Linked DNA regions of Homo sapiens. The protein of the gene in region 1 interacts with the protein of each later gene in a biochemical or structural test. Each region holds a gene or a part of one and is shown on either strand. Other genes may lie near its edges.

The links. The genes of interacting proteins can lie anywhere in the genome.
Region 2: the proteins of TRIM28 (region 1) and CBX5 form a complex in vitro, tested with the Homo sapiens proteins (6 studies listed by BioGRID, with this or other methods).

What each region holds. Positions count from the first base shown.
Region 1 is NC_000019.10:58,539,124-58,547,825, forward strand, and holds the start of TRIM28 (transcription intermediary factor 1-beta), read left to right. Parts: upstream 1-4,940; 5' UTR 4,941-5,634; coding exon 5,635-5,974; intron 5,975-6,301; coding exon 6,302-6,414; intron 6,415-6,640; coding exon 6,641-6,773; intron 6,774-8,252; coding exon 8,253-8,388; intron 8,389-8,473; coding exon 8,474-8,590; intron 8,591-8,668; coding exon 8,669-8,702. UniProt on the Homo sapiens protein: Nuclear corepressor for KRAB domain-containing zinc finger proteins (KRAB-ZFPs).
Region 2 is NC_000012.12:54,269,347-54,277,246, reverse strand, and holds part of CBX5 (chromobox protein homolog 5), read left to right. Parts: intron 1-7,900. UniProt on the Homo sapiens protein: Component of heterochromatin that recognizes and binds histone H3 tails methylated at 'Lys-9' (H3K9me), leading to epigenetic repression. In contrast, it is excluded from chromatin when 'Tyr-41' of histone H3 is phosphorylated (H3Y41ph).

The sequences.
Region 1 (8,702 bases):
CAGGATTCTTCTCACACACACCCTGCTTCCCTCCTCAGACAGGATTCTCCCCACACACACCCTGCTTCCCTCCTCAGACAGGATTCTCCCCACACAGAACCTGCTTCCCTCCTCAGACAGGATTCTCCCCACACACACCCTGCTTCCCTCCTCAGACAGGATTCTCCCCACACAGAACCTGCTTCCCTCCTCAGACAGGATTCTCCCCACACACACCCTGCTTCCCTCCTCAGACATGATTCTTCTCACACACACCCTGCTTCCCTCAGACAGGATTCTCCCCACACACACTCTGCTTCCCTCCTCAGACAGGATTCTCCCCACACAGAACCTGCTTCCCTCCTCAGACAGGATTCTCCCCACAAACACCCTGCTTCCCTCCTCAGACAGGATTCTCCCCACAGAGACCCTGCTTCCCTCCTCAGACAGGATGCTCCCCACACACACCCTGCTTCCCTCCTCAGACAGGATTCTTCTCACACACACCCTGCTTCCCTCCTCAGACAGGATTCTCCCCACACACACCCTGCTTCCCTCCTCAGACAGGATTCTCCCCACACACACCCCACTTCCCTCAGACAGGATTCTCCCCACACAGACCCTGCTTCCCTCCTCAGACAGGATTTTCCCCACACAGACCCTGCTTCCCTCCTCAGACAGGATTCTCCCCACACAGACCCTGCTTCCCTCCTCAGACAGGGCTCCCCTCCCCACACACCCTGCTTCCCTCCTCAGACAGAGTTCCCCTCCCCACACAGACCCTCTTTCCCTCAGACAGGATTTTCCCCACACAAACCCTACTTTCCTCCTCAGACAGGATTCTCCCCACACAGACTCTGCTTCCCTGAGACAGGATTCTCCCCACACACACCCTGCTTCCCTCCTCAGACAGGATTCTCCCCACACACACCCTGCTTCCCTCCTCAGACAGGATTCTCACCCCACACACCCTGCTTCCCTCCTCAGACAGGATTCTCCCCACACACACCCTGCTTCCTTCCTCAGACAGGATTCTCCCCCCACACACCCTGCTTCCCTCCTCAGACAGGATTCTCCCCCCACACACCCTGCTTCCCTCCTCAGACAGGATTCTTCTCACACACACCCTGCTTCCCTCCTCATACAGGATTCTCCCCACACACACCCTGCTTCCCTCCTCAGACAGGATTCTCCCCACACAGACCCTGCTTCCCTCCTCAGACAGGATTCTCCCCCCACACCCTGCTTCCCTCCTCAGACAGGATTCTCCCCCCACACACCCTGCTTCCCTCCTCAGACAGGATTCTCCCCACACACACCCTGCTTCCCTCCTCAGACAGGGCTCCCCCCACACACCCTGCTTCCCTCCTCAGACAGGATTCTCCCCACACAGACCCTACTTCCCTCCTCAGACAGGATGCTCCCCCCACACACCCTGCTTCCCTCCTCAGACAGGATTCTCCCCCCACACACCCTGCTTCCCACCTCAGACAGGATTCTCCCCCCACACACCCTGCTTCCCTCCTCATACAGGATTCTCCCCACACACACCCTGCTTCCCTCCTCAGACAGGATTCTCCCCCCACACATCCTGCTTCCCTCCTCAGACAGGATTTTCCCCACACAAACCCTACTTTCCTCCTCAGACAGGATTCTCTCCACACAGACCCTGCTTCCCTCAGACAGGATTCTCCCCACACAGACCCTGCTTCCCTCCTCAGGCAGGATTCTCCCCACACAGACCCTGCTTCCCTCCTCAGACAGGATTCTCCCCACACAGACCCTGCTTCCCTCCTCAGACAGGATTCTCCCCACACAGACCCTGCTTCCCTCCTCAGACAGGATTCTCACCCCACACACCCTGCTTCCCTCCTCAGACAGGATTCTCCCCACACACACCCTGCTTCCCTCCTCAGACAGGATTCTCCCCCCACACACCCTGCTTCCCTCCTCAGACAGGATGCTCCCCACACACACCCTGCTTCCTTCCTCAGACAGGATTCTCCCCCCACACACCCTGCTTCCCTCCTCAGACAGGATTCTCCCCCCACACACCCTGCTTCCCTCCTCAGACAGGAAGCTCCCCCCACACACCCTGCTTCCCTCCTCATACAGGATTCTCCCCACACACACCCTGCTTCCCTCCTCAGACAGGATTCTCCCCACACAGACCCTGCTTCCCTCCTCAGACAGGATTCTCCCCCCACACCCTGCTTCCCTCCTCAGACAGGATTCTCCCCCCACACACCCTGCTTCCCTCCTCAGACAGGATTCTCCCCACACACACCCTGCTTCCCTCCTCAGACAGGGCTCCCCCCACACACCCTGCTTCCCTCCTCAGACAGGATTCTCCCCCCACACACCCTGCTTCCCTCCTCAGACAGGATTCTCTCCACACACACCCTGCTTCCCTCCTCAGACAGGATTCTCCCCACACACACCCTGCTTCCCTCCTCAGACAGGATTCTCCCCACAGAGACCCTGCTTCCCTCCTCAGACAGGATTCTCCTCACACACACCCTGCTTCCCTCCTCAGACAGGATTCTCCCCACACACACCCTGCTTCCCTCCTCAGACAGGATTCTCCCCACACACACCCTGCTTCCCTCCTCAGACAGGATTCTCCCCACACACACCCCGCTTCCCTCAGACAGGATTCTCCCCACACAGACCCTGCTTCCCTCCTCAGACAGGATTTTCCCCACACACACCCTGCTTCCCTCCTCAGACAGGATTCTCCCCACACAGACCCTGCTTCCCTCCTCAGACAGGGCTCCCCTCCCCACACAGACCCTCTTTCCCTCAGACAGGATTTTCCCCACACAAACCCTACTTTCCTCCTCAGACAGGATTCTCCCCACACAGACCCTGCTTCCCTCAGACAGGATTCTCCCCACACAGACCCTGCTTCCCTCCTCAGGCAGGATTCTCCCCACACAGACCCTGCTTCCCTCCTCAGACAGGATTCTCCCCACACAGACCCTGCTTCCCTCCTCAGACAGGATTCTCCCCACACAGACCCTGCTTCCCTCCTCAGACAGGATTCTCACCCCACACACCCTGCTTCCCTCCTCAGACAGGATTCTCCCCACACACACCCTGCTTCCCTCCTCAGACAGGATTCTCCCCACACAGACCCTGCTTCCCTCCTCAGACAGGGATTCCCCTCCCCACACAGACCCTCTTTCCCTCAGACAGGATTTTCCCCCCACACACCCTGCTTCCCTCCTCAGACAGGATTCTCCCCACATACACCCTGCTTCCCTCCTCAGACAGGATTCTCCCCACACACACCCTGCTTCCCTCCTCAGACAGGATTCTCCCCACACAGACCCTGCTTCCCTCCTCAGACAGGGCTCCCCTCCCCACACAGACCCTCTTTCCCTCAGACAGGATTTTCCCCACACACACCCTACTTTCCTCCTCAGACAGGATTCTCCCCACACAGACCCTGCTTCCCTCAGACAGGATTCTCCCCACTCAGACCCTGCTTCCCTCCTCAGGCAGGATTCTCCCCACACAGAACCTGCTTCCCTCCTCAGACAGGATTCTCCCCACACACACCCTGCTTCCCTCCTCAGACAGGATTCTCCCCACACACACCCTGCTTCCCTCCTCAGACAGGATTCTCCCCACACAGACGCTGCTTCCCTCCTCAGACAGGATTCTCCCCACACAGACCCTGCTTCCCTCCTCAGACAGGGTTCCCCTCCGCACACACACCCTCTTTCCCTCAGACAGGATTTTCCCCACACAAACCCTACTTTCCACCTCAGACAGGATTCTCCCCACATGGACCTGCTTCCTTCCCTCCTTGGGATTCCCCACTGTTGAGGTTCAGTTTCCCCATCTGGAAAAGCATCAAAGTCAGGGTAGCTGCTGACGAAAACATGGGGAGGGGATGCCTTGGGGGGCTGGGTGGGATTTCACAGACTCATTGCTCTTTAGCCTCTTGTGATTTATATATATGTGTATATATATATATATATTTTTTTTCTTGATGGGGGGTTGGGGGGCCCGGCGTGGTGGCTCACACCTGTAATTCCAGCACTTTGGGAGGCCAAAGTGGGTCTATCATCTGACGTCGGGAGTTCGAGACCAGCCTGGCCAACGTGGTGAAACCCCGTCTCTATTAAAAATACAAAAATTAGCCAGGCGTGATGGCAGGCCCCTGTAATCCCAGCTACTCGGGAGGCTGAGGCAGAAGAATCGCTTGAACCCGGGAGGCGGAGGTTGCAGCGAGCCGAGATCGTGCCACTGCACTCCAGCCTGGGCAACAGAGCAAAACTCCGTCTCAAAACAAACACAAAAACCTTTCTCTCCTCTTTTGAGATGGAGTTTCACTCTTTTCTCCCAGGCTGTAGTGCAATGGCACGATCTCGGCTCACTGCAACCTCCGCCTCCCGGGTTCAAGCGATTCTCCTGCCTCAGCCTCCCGAGTAGCTGGGATTACAGGCGCCTGCCACCACGCCCGGCTACTTTTTGTACTTTTAGTAGAGACGGGGTTTCACCACGTTGGCCAGGCTGCTCTCGAACTCCTGACTTAAGATCCAACCGCCTCGACCTCCCAAAGTGCTGGAATTACAGGCGTGAGCCGCCGCGCCCGGCCACATTTTTCTCCATCTGTGGTCTAGGCTGGCGTGCAGTGGCACAATCCCGCCTCACTGCTGCCTCGGCCTCCTGGGCTAAACGGAGCTTCCCGACTCGCCTAAGAAAGTGGTGGGATTACAGGTATGAGCCACGGCGCCCGGCTGTGATCTACATTTGATTCAGTCAAGTTTCTGTGTTTCTCAAGTTTAACTATAGCGTGGTTAAAATCCAAAAGTCAGCACCCGAGCTCACACAGGAGCTTCCTCCCTCTTGGGATGGAGACTCTCCTCCCCTCTCCCTGGACACAGCCCTTCACTCGGTCTTGGCCCCGCCTACTTCTCCATCGGCCCTGCCCCCTATCCCGAACTCTTAGTGACGCAGAGGCTGGAGACGACTCTACGGCGGCGAAGAGACGCGGGTTGAGGAAGAGGGACGGATTGCCCATGCGCTTGGGCGCACAGCGGCCCGCTTCTGTGTGGTCTGGAGGTGGAGCTGAGAGGGGAATCACACTCTATAAAGGTTCGCATACCCCACTGGCGGATTCAATTGCGGCAGTGACGTCACAGAGGCCCCGCCCCGCCCCCACAAGAGCCCCACCGACGTGGGGTTGGCGGTGGTGGAAGGACTAGGAGTTGGCGCGTGCGTACTGGCGGCCTCTCCCGCACCGACCGGCCTGGGCCCCGCCCCCGGGCGTGAGGCGCCCAATGCGCGTGCGCGGCGGCGTCGGCGCCAGTTATTTCTGTCCCGCCCCCCGGCCTCGGCTCTTTCTGCGAGCGGGCGCGCGGGCGAGCGGTTGTGCTTGTGCTTGTGGCGCGTGGTGCGGGTTTCGGCGGCGGCTGAGGAAGAAGCGCGGGCGGCGCCTTCGGGAGGCGAGCAGGCAGCAGTTGGCCGTGCCGTAGCAGCGTCCCGCGCGCGGCGGGCAGCGGCCCAGGAGGCGCGTGGCGGCGCTCGGCCTCGCGGCGGCGGCGGCGGCAGCGGCCCAGCAGTTGGCGGCGAGCGCGTCTGCGCCTGCGCGGCGGGCCCCGCGCCCCTCCTCCCCCCCTGGGCGCCCCCGGCGGCGTGTGAATGGCGGCCTCCGCGGCGGCAGCCTCGGCAGCAGCGGCCTCGGCCGCCTCTGGCAGCCCGGGCCCGGGCGAGGGCTCCGCTGGCGGCGAAAAGCGCTCCACCGCCCCTTCGGCCGCAGCCTCGGCCTCTGCCTCAGCCGCGGCGTCGTCGCCCGCGGGGGGCGGCGCCGAGGCGCTGGAGCTGCTGGAGCACTGCGGCGTGTGCAGAGAGCGCCTGCGACCCGAGAGGGAGCCCCGCCTGCTGCCCTGTTTGCACTCGGCCTGTAGTGCCTGCTTAGGGCCCGCGGCCCCCGCCGCCGCCAACAGCTCGGGGGACGGCGGGGCGGCGGGCGACGGCACCGGTAAGTACGAAGTGATCGGTGCCACCCCTCCCCCTACTCTCTGCCTTTGATTCCGACTGGGTGCAGAGATGAGGATGCCACCTGGGCGAGAGGATGGGGGCCCGGACAGGGCACGGGAAATACTTTCTGGGTCCTGCATACGAACGTGGGTTTGTGCTGGCCGCTGAGATGGGACATCTGACTAAAGTTGGAGAAAAGAAGGCTCGGGGAGGGGAGGGGCTGGTTCGCTGCGGGATAATGGTCGGGGGCCCACCCAGCAGGGGAATGGTGGGGGCCATAACCTGGGTGGGAACTTGTAACAGTCTCCCACATCCCTGCTTCTCGAAGTGGTGGACTGTCCCGTGTGCAAGCAACAGTGCTTCTCCAAAGACATCGTGGAGAATTATTTCATGCGTGATAGTGGCAGCAAGGCTGCCACCGACGCCCAGGATGCGAACCAGGTGCGTCCTATCTCAGCAACCACAAGGAGGTTTCTGGGGAGGGGGCATCTGCGCAGGAGGAGCTTGGCACCAGCTCCAGGCTGTTACTCCACTTTCCCAAGGCTCTGGGTGGGCTGCCTAGGTTGGGTCAAGGGACCAATCTTAAATCTCCGGTTGTATTTTCTGGGATGTAAACGTGGATCTATCAAGTTGTCTTGCCTTCTCTGACCCTGCCTTTGTCTGGCAGTGCTGCACTAGCTGTGAGGATAATGCCCCAGCCACCAGCTACTGTGTGGAGTGCTCGGAGCCTCTGTGTGAGACCTGTGTAGAGGCGCACCAGCGGGTGAAGTACACCAAGGACCATACTGTGCGCTCTACTGGTACATGAGGCTGAGGGGGGCTGTTGGAGTTGTTCTCCCATGTGTGCCCTCAGTTGCTTTTATGATGTTGGTTGCATCTGGTGGATGGGTCCTAGAGTTCTCTAGGGGGTGCCGCCCGAAGGGCCCGAGGGCAGAACTCCAGAAGCAGAAAAACTGGGGTTGTGGTGTGTAGTCTCTAGGGCCTAGGTGGGAGAGGGTGGGAAGGGGAAATAAGGGAGACCTTAATGTGCTGCAGGGAGGTACAAAGGGTTTGAGAAGGCTTATCAGGGAGTTGTCAGACCTGGTGGTGAAGGGCTCAGCATATGCAAACAGGGAAAGGCATGGTGTGAAGGGCTTTCTGGGTTTGTGGTTCCCTGGCACACATCTGGTATAAGATGCTGCTAGGGAAAGTAGACTGTGGGTCCATGGATTATAAGTGATGATGATTTTTGGAAGTGTTTTAGCTTTTGAGTTGGCAGAGACTTACCCAAAGTTTGGTTTGGCATTTCCAGCTTTTCACAGACACAGCTAGCTTTGGTTTGGAAGGAGCTTGAGAGTCTTTTGAGTCTAGCCAAGTTTTGGGGCCAGAATCCTCCCATGAGTGGCCTTTTGGTAGCCATACTGTGATTCTTCCCATCCCAGAGGACAGCATTGGTGGAAGATAGCGGGAAGGTGGTGGCTGTGGGGCCTGAGCAGCCAGGAGGGATACGCAGGGGCTGCAGGGTGTCCTACATTCCAGACGTCCCAGGCAAAGGTCAGGGTGCAGGAATGAGTGGCATTGGGGAAGTCAGTTTCCCCAATGAGCCCTGATGCTACATATTTTGGATTTGGTTGGTATGTGGGACCAGTGTGTTTGATCAGTTTTCTAATGGGGAGACAGGCTTTGGAGGTTATTAATGGGTTGGTCTTTGGGTGGGATTATGCTGAGCACCAAGATTCTGCTCTAGAGGGGGTGTGACCACCATTCTGAGGGTCCTGGTTTGACATTTCATCTCTCCCAGTATGAGAACCTCTACAAGGTTTCCTCTGGGCCCTTGGATTGTAAGAGACCCTGGTGTTCTCTTGTCAGGGAAGAGGGAGGAAGTTAACCATGAAAGGAGAAGAAAAGGAATCCAGGGTGGTGTGTAGGCAGAATTCTGAGTATGTCCACTTGGAGAAGTGTTCAGTAAAGGGAACAGTGTGGGGAAGGGTCAGCGGGGGTGGGGGGTGGGGTGGGGTGGTCCTCTTTTTCTAGACGCTGTTATCCTTACCCTTACATTGTTGTTATCTCTAGAAGCTAGAAGAAAGGGATGTGTTTCTCAGCTATGTTGGGGCAGAGGATTCTGGGAGCAAGGAGTTGGGCTTGCAGGCCTGTGTTCTTCCCTGGCCACACCCTCTACATCTTCCCAATAAATGGCCCAGTGTCACAGAACAGGCCGGAAATGAGGCCCCAACTCATTCTGCTTCCTGAGTTGGGGGTGGTGAAGGGCAAGGTCCAGCCTTATGATTCCCACTCCCCAGGGCCAGCCAAGTCTCGGGATGGTGAACGTACTGTCTATTGCAACGTACACAAGCATGAACCCCTTGTGCTGTTTTGTGAGAGCTGTGATACTCTCACCTGCCGAGACTGCCAGCTCAATGCCCACAAGGACCACCAGTGAGTCCCAAGGCATAGTGGTTGGGTGGGTGGGTGCCACCCCTTCCGTAGCTTAGTGCTCAGGAACACATCTGTCTGCTCTCAGGTACCAGTTCTTAGAGGATGCAGTGAGGAACCAGCGCAAGCTCCTGGCCTCACTGGTGAAGCGCCTTGGGGACAAACATGCAACATTGCAGAAGAGCACCAAGGAGGTTCGCAGCTCGTAAGTGTGGGTTCTGGGGCTGTGGGGGTGGCCCAGGGCAGCAAGACCCTACCTAGCCTGACCTGCTGTGTCCCCTAGAATCCGCCAGGTGTCTGACGTACAGAAGCGTGTG
Region 2 (7,900 bases), on another chromosome or scaffold:
GGGCGACAAAGCAAGAGTCCGTCTCAAAACAAAAAAACCCACAATAATTAGCCAGTCATGGTGGTGGGCGCCTGTAATCCCAGCTACTCAGGAGGCTGAGACGGGATAATCGCTTGAACCTGGGAGGCAGAGTTTGCAGTGAGCCGAGATGATGCCACTGCACCCCAGTCTGGGCGACAGAGTGAGACCTTGTCTCAGAAAAAAAAAGTTTTTACCACTTTTTGCTGCTTAAACTTACACATACGATTGATTGCATCTTGTCCTTGTTTGGCTTCCTAAAATAATGGCAAATATGTTTTTGAAGAAGGTAGACTTTGCCTCACATCCTTCTTTTTCACTTGATTCTAGCTAGCCTCTTTCTTTTCCTGGGATTCTTTTGGATCCACGTCTCAAAACTTTTTTGACCGCAATAAGAAATATATTTTACACTAATCCTGTACACACATTGAAACATTTCACTAAACGTGCAGAGTACTCTGATATTCTTTTGTCTGCAGTATACTATTTCATTGTCTTAAGAAAGCAGTCAATTTCCATTGAACTGATTTCACAGCTGTTTATAGACCCAGGGTTTTGGGGGAAAAAGACTGCTGATCTGAAGAATAGGTCACCAAATCATGCCAACTTTGATTGCTTTCTGAGTCAGTTCCTTCCATCTCCAGCCCCAGCCACTTGTACAGATGGTCCCTTGCTTGTGATATTTCGACTTAAGATTTTTCACCTTTACAACGGTGTGGAAAGCAATTTGCATTCAGTAGAAACCATATTTCAAGTATCCACATAACCATTCTGTTTTTCACTTTCGGTACAGTAATCAACCAATTACATGAGATATTCAACACTTTATTATAAAACAGGCTTTGTGTTAGGTGATTTTGTCCAACAGTAGGCTAATGTAAGTATTCTGAACACATTTAAGGTAGGCTAGGCTAAGCTATGATGTTCAGTAGATTAGGTGTAGGAAATGAATTTTCAATTTTTCATATTTTCAACCTATGATGGGTTTATCAGGACATAACCCCATCAAGGAGTATCTATGTAAACAGATTAAGCAGTGACCCATTATTTGGTGTTTTTACTCATGTGTTTTACTTTGAAAGATTATAGGAGCCAAACCGAGACTTTCTAGTTTACTGTCGTGTGCAAGTGAAAACTGCTTGTTTTATTGTGAAGTCTCACAATGCTTAAAGAGGGAAAACAATAAAAATATTGCAAAATGTCTCCCAATGTGATAGGTTTTTTTTTTTTTTTTTTTTGGAATGGAGTCTCGCTCTTGTTGCCCAGTCTGGAGTGCGGTGGCACGATCTTGACTCACCTCAACCTCCGCCTCCCAGGTTCAAGCAATTCTCCTGCTCCAGCCTCCTGAGTAGCTGGGATTACAGGCATACGTCCGGCTAATTTTTAGTAGAGACGGGGTTTCTCCATGTTGGTTAGGCTGGCCTCAAACTCCTGACCTTAGGTGATCTGCCTGCCTTGGCCTCCCAAAGTGCTGGGATTACAGGTGTGAGCCACTGTGCCCAGCCTCCAATGTGGTAGTTAATAGATATGATGAACTTTTCTCTCTGGTGGTGAAATTTTAGTGGGTAATTTTTCATTGAAATTCTGGTACTATCACAGAGTTAGAAATCCTAACTTCCAATGTGATACGTGTTGGGCCTCTAATTACAGAAGTTATAACGCTTGTGCTTAGAACTTAGAGACATACTGCCTGGGCGCAGTGGCTTATGCCTGTAATCCCAGCACTTTGGGAGGCCGAGGCGGGCAGATCATGAGTTCAGGAGATTGAGACCATCCTGGCTAACACGGTGAAACCCCATCTCCGCTAAAAATACAAAAAATTAGCCGGGCGTGGTGGCACACGCCTGTAGCCCCAGCTACTCTGGAGGCTGAGGCAGGAGAATTGCTGAGCCTGGGAGGCGGAGGTTACAGTGAGCCGAGATTGCACCACTGTACTCCAGCCTGGGTGACAGAGCGAGACTGTCTCAAAAAAGAAAAAAAAACTTAGAGACATACCTACTATTGCAACCAAATCTAAAAGGGGTGTTTACTAAAGGGGAATATATTCTGTCTGAAAACTAGTAAGTGGAAAGCTTCAATTTGGGTAGTAGGTGAGCAGGATGATAGTTGGGGAAAGAAAGAGTGAGCCTACATTTGAAGCGGCTGGATTTGTATATGGCTAGGGAAATTCTGGAGATTCTCAGAGCCCTTAACAATACTCTAGAAAAGAGAAAGGTTTGGTATCAGGGTACAAAGATTTTTGAGGAAGACTAAGTCGCTTTTTGTTTCTATTGAGATTTGTTTGTTTTTGAGACAGAGTCGCGCTCTGTCACCCAGGCTAGAGTGCAGTGGCGTGATCTCGGCTCACTGCAACCTCTGCCTCCCGGATTCAAGCGATCCTCCTGCCTCAGCCTCCCGAGTAGCTGGGACTACAGGCACGTGCCACCATGCCTGGCTAATTTTTTTGTATTTTTAGTAGAGACAGGATTTCACCGTGTTAGCCAGGATGGTCTCAATCTACTGACCTCATGATCCAACCGCCTCGGCCTCCCAAAGTGTTAGAATTACAGGCATGAGCCACTGTGCCCGGCTCTATTGAGGTCTTTAACCACATAGCATGATTTCCATATCTTATTGGTATAGCCCATTTAATTAATAACTGTCCTGGTAAAGCATTTCTAGTCTTTATTTTGTCCTTTTACTTAGATTATTTTTATTTCCATTCATCTTACATGAAACTGGGCCTAAAGCTGTGTTATGGATATTGATTTTAAAAGTAATAAATTACAACATGAGATACCACTTGACTTAGTATGGCTGTTTACATATCTGCTATTCGTGAACTCGGACTCTGGGCAATCATCTTTTTCTCCTGATATAAACTTTTATTTTTCTTCCTTGCTTATAGAGAATGATTTTAACTGATCATTGTACTAATAGGAAGGAGTCCAGGTCATCCTGAGAAGAGTTCGCTTGTCCAGAGTCCAAGATGCAGATTTGTTGGATTTCTGTAAGCCACTCGAAGCCACATATTCATTTCTGATGACAGCTTTACACTTGTGCTGGAAGAACACCCACTGTGACAACTGCTGCCTATGTTTAGTCTGTCCAGGAGCTCTACCAACTAGCATGTTTGCAGAAAAACCTACACTGTTCTTGTTAGCAGCTATGTAAATATTAGATCTTTCTGAGTTTCTCTTCTCAGATCTGCCAATTTCTTTGGGGCAAATTGTATCCTGCAGTAGCCTCAATTTACCCTTTGAAATGAGGGATTAAAGGTTTTAGACATTCTTTGGGTTATCTGAAACACAATTCTTTTTGGATCAGTAATGTTTTATATATGTCCACTTTATGATGTTTAAAATTTTATTCCCCCTATGTATTAGTTTCCTGTGGCTGCTATAACAAATTACCACAGACTTGGTGGTTTAAAACAAGAGGAATTTATTCTTCTCAAAATTTTGGAGCCCAGAAGTCTGCAATCAAGATATTGAGGCCCCTCTGGAGGCTCTAGGAGAGAGACTGTTCTTTGCCTCTTTTAGCTTCTGATTATGGTCAGCATTCCTTGGCATATCTCTCTGTTCTGTTTTCACATTGTCTTCTCTTTTGAGTACTTGCATCAGAACTCTCCCTCTACCTGTGTATTATAAGGATACATATGATTGCAATTAAGAAACCACTTGGATGAACCAGGATAAATTTCTCCAATCCTATCTTTTAATTCAACCTGAGAGAGCAGATTTAAAATATATTTTATTCCTAAAGTGGCAGGTCCCTGAAAAAAAAATGTAGATTCATGTTTATTTTGAGACAGAGTCTCGCTTTGTCACCCAGTCTGGAGTGCATTGGTGTGATTTTGGCTCACTGCAACCTCCGCCTCCCAGGTTCAAGCTATTCTCCTGCCTCAGCCTCCTGAGTAGCTGGGATTACAGGTGCCTGCCACCGTGCCCGGCTAATTTATGTATTTTTGATAGAGACAGGATTTCACCAGTTTGCCAGGCTGGTCTAGAACCCTTGACATCAGGTGATCCGCCTGCCTCAGCCTCCCAAAGTGCTGGGATTACAGGCATAAGTCACCGCGCCCGGCCGGATTCATCTTTTAATCACATCTTTTGCTATATAAAATAACATTTACAGGTTCAAGGGATTAAGATAAGAATCTCTTTGGGGGAGGGCCATCATTCAGACCACTACACATTGGTTCCCTAACCTCTACCCAAATAGATTTGAGCTAATTCAGAAAAGAAAATGTTATTTTTAAAGAAACAGAGGCAAGTGAAAAAAGGCTCAGAAACCTGGGTTCTTGTCCTGCCTCTGCCATTATCTAATGGTGTAACCATGGGTGAGCCATTTGCCCTCTTTAGTCCTTAGTTTCTTTATCTTATAGGGAAGGAGTTGGATAAGTGATCGTTAACAAGCCTTCTAGACCTAAGACTTTATGAAGTGATTCCTAAGTCATCTTGGAGTTTGTTTTTTAAGTCAATAATTTAAAATGTGAATCAAAACATTACAAATTACAACATTTTGGGTGAGGGTAGTCCTGTTCTTGCCTAGGACTTGAAGGATGGAAGACTGAGCTGTTGGCTGACTGTCAACTCCTTGGGGTATTAACACAGGATAACTAACCTGTATTTGTTAGCTGTGTGCTTAAACCTTTCTGAAGAAAAGATTTTCTACAAGGGATGTAATAGACTAGCTGGAACATTTTCACTACATTTTTAGTGAGACTATAGACTGTGTAGCCTGAATTTTCTTTCCAGTAGTAGTAGTTCATCAAAATTAAACACTGACAGATTTTTTTCTACCTGAAACTAGGTCATAGAGTAAAAATTTTCACTTGCAGTCTTACTCTTCAGACTCACTGAATGCCTGTTCCATCCTGTTTCATTGCTAGGAAGGACACTAGATAAAGCCATGAGCTTGAGATGGTGTACTTGAAAGGACCGTTTCAAGATCAGGTTTTATAACACACTCATTATTTATTTCTTCTGTGGAGAGGAGAAACCAAATTGGATTCAAGTATTTTTCTGATAGTAATCTATGTTTCTTAGAATAAAGCAAGTTCATATCTGAGCCAGAGGGCATAATTATGTCAGAATAAAATATAATTATGTCGGAATAAAATGCCCTGTACTAAAGAGGTCAACTAACAGGCTGGGAAATCTTAAGTTTTGTTTTTAAGACAAATCCTTGAACTCTCTGTGCCTCGTTTCTCATCCCTAAATCTGTGCAACTCACCTCACAGGGAGTTGTGGAGGGTAATATACTGCTAATTTGTTCAGTGTTTCACAACAATAAATTATGCCTAAGATCTGATAAAACATAGCAAACCTCATTTATGTAAGTAGAGACAAGCATGGATAAGACTTACAGATAATAAAGAAAATTCATTAAAATTTTTTTAACTTCCTTGATTATTAAACATTTTTCCTTCTGTTTCCTATATATTTTCCAAAGTATTTTCCTATTGTTTTTCCATAATAGACTTATGAGATAGGGCAAATAACAAACACCAGGTTATATAATAAATGAATAAATTCATCAAGCGGACATAACAATCCTAAATGTCCTAAAAGCTAATAATAAAGCTTCAACATACACAAAGGAAAACAGAAATGAAGTAACAAGCCAGGTGCAGTGGCTCACGCCTGTAATCCCAGCACTTTGGGAGGCTGAGGTGGGTGGATTACCTGAGGTCAGGAGTTCCAGATCAGCCTGGCCAACATGGTGAAACCCTGTCTACTAAAAATACAAAAATTATCTGGGCATGGTGGCGTGCGCCTGTAATCCCAGCTACTTGGGAGGCTGAGGCAGGAGAATCGCTTGAACCTGGGAGGTGGAGGTTGCAGTGAGCGGAGATCGCGCCACTGCACTCCAGCCTGGGTGACAGAGCAAGACTCCGTCTCAAAAAAAGAAAAGAAAAAGGAAATAACAGACATCTGCAATTATATTTGGAAATTTCAGTGCCTCTCAGTAATTGATAAAACAGGTAGATGAAATCAGTAAGGAAACGGAAGACTTGAACAACACTACCAACAACCTGATATAATTGACATTTATAGAATAGTACAAGCAACAGCAGAATACATGTGCTTTTCAGGTGCACATGGAACTTTTACACAGACAGTTTACCTTCTGGGTCAATAAGTCTCAAATTCAAAAGGATTCAATCATAAAGGTTTTTTAAAAAAATTTAAACGGGGTCTTGTTCTGTCACCCAAGCTGGAGTGCAGTGACACAATCAACTCACTGCAGCCTGAAACTCCTGGGCTCAAGTGATCCTCCTGCCTCAGCCTTCTGAAAAGCTGGGACCACTGGCATGTGCCACCATGCTCAGCCACCCACCCTTTTTTCTTTTTTTGTAGAGACAGGGTCTCGTTATGTTGCCCGGATTGGTGTCAGACCCCTGGGCTCAAGTGATCCTCTCATCTCAGCTTCCCAAAGTGCTGGGATTACAGGCATGAGCCACTGTGCTTGGCCAAGGTATGTTTATTTCCTGATCATAGTGCAATTAAATAAAAAATCAGTAACAAAGACATCAAGAAAAATCCCTAAATATTTTGAAATTACACAACACACTTCTAAGTAACCCACCTACAAAGAGGAAATTACAAAGAAAACTAATACTTGGAACTGAATGAAAATGAAAAGATGATATATCAAAACTTTTAGAATGAGGCTAGGTGCTGTGACTGATTCCTGTAAACTCAACGCTTTGAGAAGCTGAGGCGAGAGGATCACTTGAGCTCAGGAGTTCAAGACCAGCCTGGGCAACATAGTGAGACCTAGTCTCTAGAAAAAATTAAAAAGTATCCAGGAGTGGTGGTTTGCCAGTAGTCCCAGCTAGTTGGGAGGCTGAGGTGGGATGCTTACTGGAGCCTGGGAGATCAAGGCTGCAGTGAGCTATGATCCTGCCACTGCACTTGAGCCTGGGTGGCAGAGACCCTATCTCAAAAACAAAACAAAATTGTGGGATGCAGTTAAGGAAGTGCTTAAAGGGAAATTTATAGCATTAAGTACTTTAACAACAAAAGCAGGTCACTGACAGGTTTGGCCCTGTGAACCTAGAAAAAGAACAAATTAAATCCAAAATAAACAAGAAAATAGTAATGATAAAAGCAGCAATTAATGGGATATAGAACAATAGAGAATAGAAAAAAACGGAAAGTTCTTTGAAAAGATCAATAAAATTGATAAATCAGGAAAAAAGATACTAATTAACAATATTAGGAACTAAGGAATATCACTATTGATCCTACAGATAATAAGGGAATATTTTGAAAAACGATACGAATACATTCAATGTCTTAGTTGAAGTTAGTAACTTCCTTGAAGACAAACTACCAAAACTCACTTAAATACAGAACCTTGGGTGGGCATGGAGGCTTACACATGTAATCTCAACATTTTGGGAGGCCAAGAGTTCAAGACCAGCCCAGGAAACATAATGAGACCTCTCTACAGGCAAAAAGAAGAAAACGTCAGAACCTTACTAGCCCTATCTCTATTAAGGAAAAGGGATTTTTAGATAGAAATAATCCCACAAAGAAAACGCCAGGCCCAGGCCAAGCATGATGGCTCATGCCTGTAATCCCAGCACTTTGGGAGGCTGAGGTGGGTGGATCACGAGGTCAGGAGTTCAAGACCAGCCTGGCTAGCATGGTGAAGCCCCGTCTCTACTAAAAATACAAAAATGAGCCAGGCATGGTGGTGTGCTCCTGTAGTCCCAGCTACTCGGGAGGCTGAGGCAGGAGAATCGCTTGAACCTCAGAGGCGGAGGGTGCAGTGAGCTGAGATTGCACCACCGCACTCCAGCCTGGGCAACAGAGCAATCTCTGTCTCAAAAGAAAAAGAAAACTCTGAGCCCAGATGGCTTCACTGAAGAATTTTACCAAACCTTTTA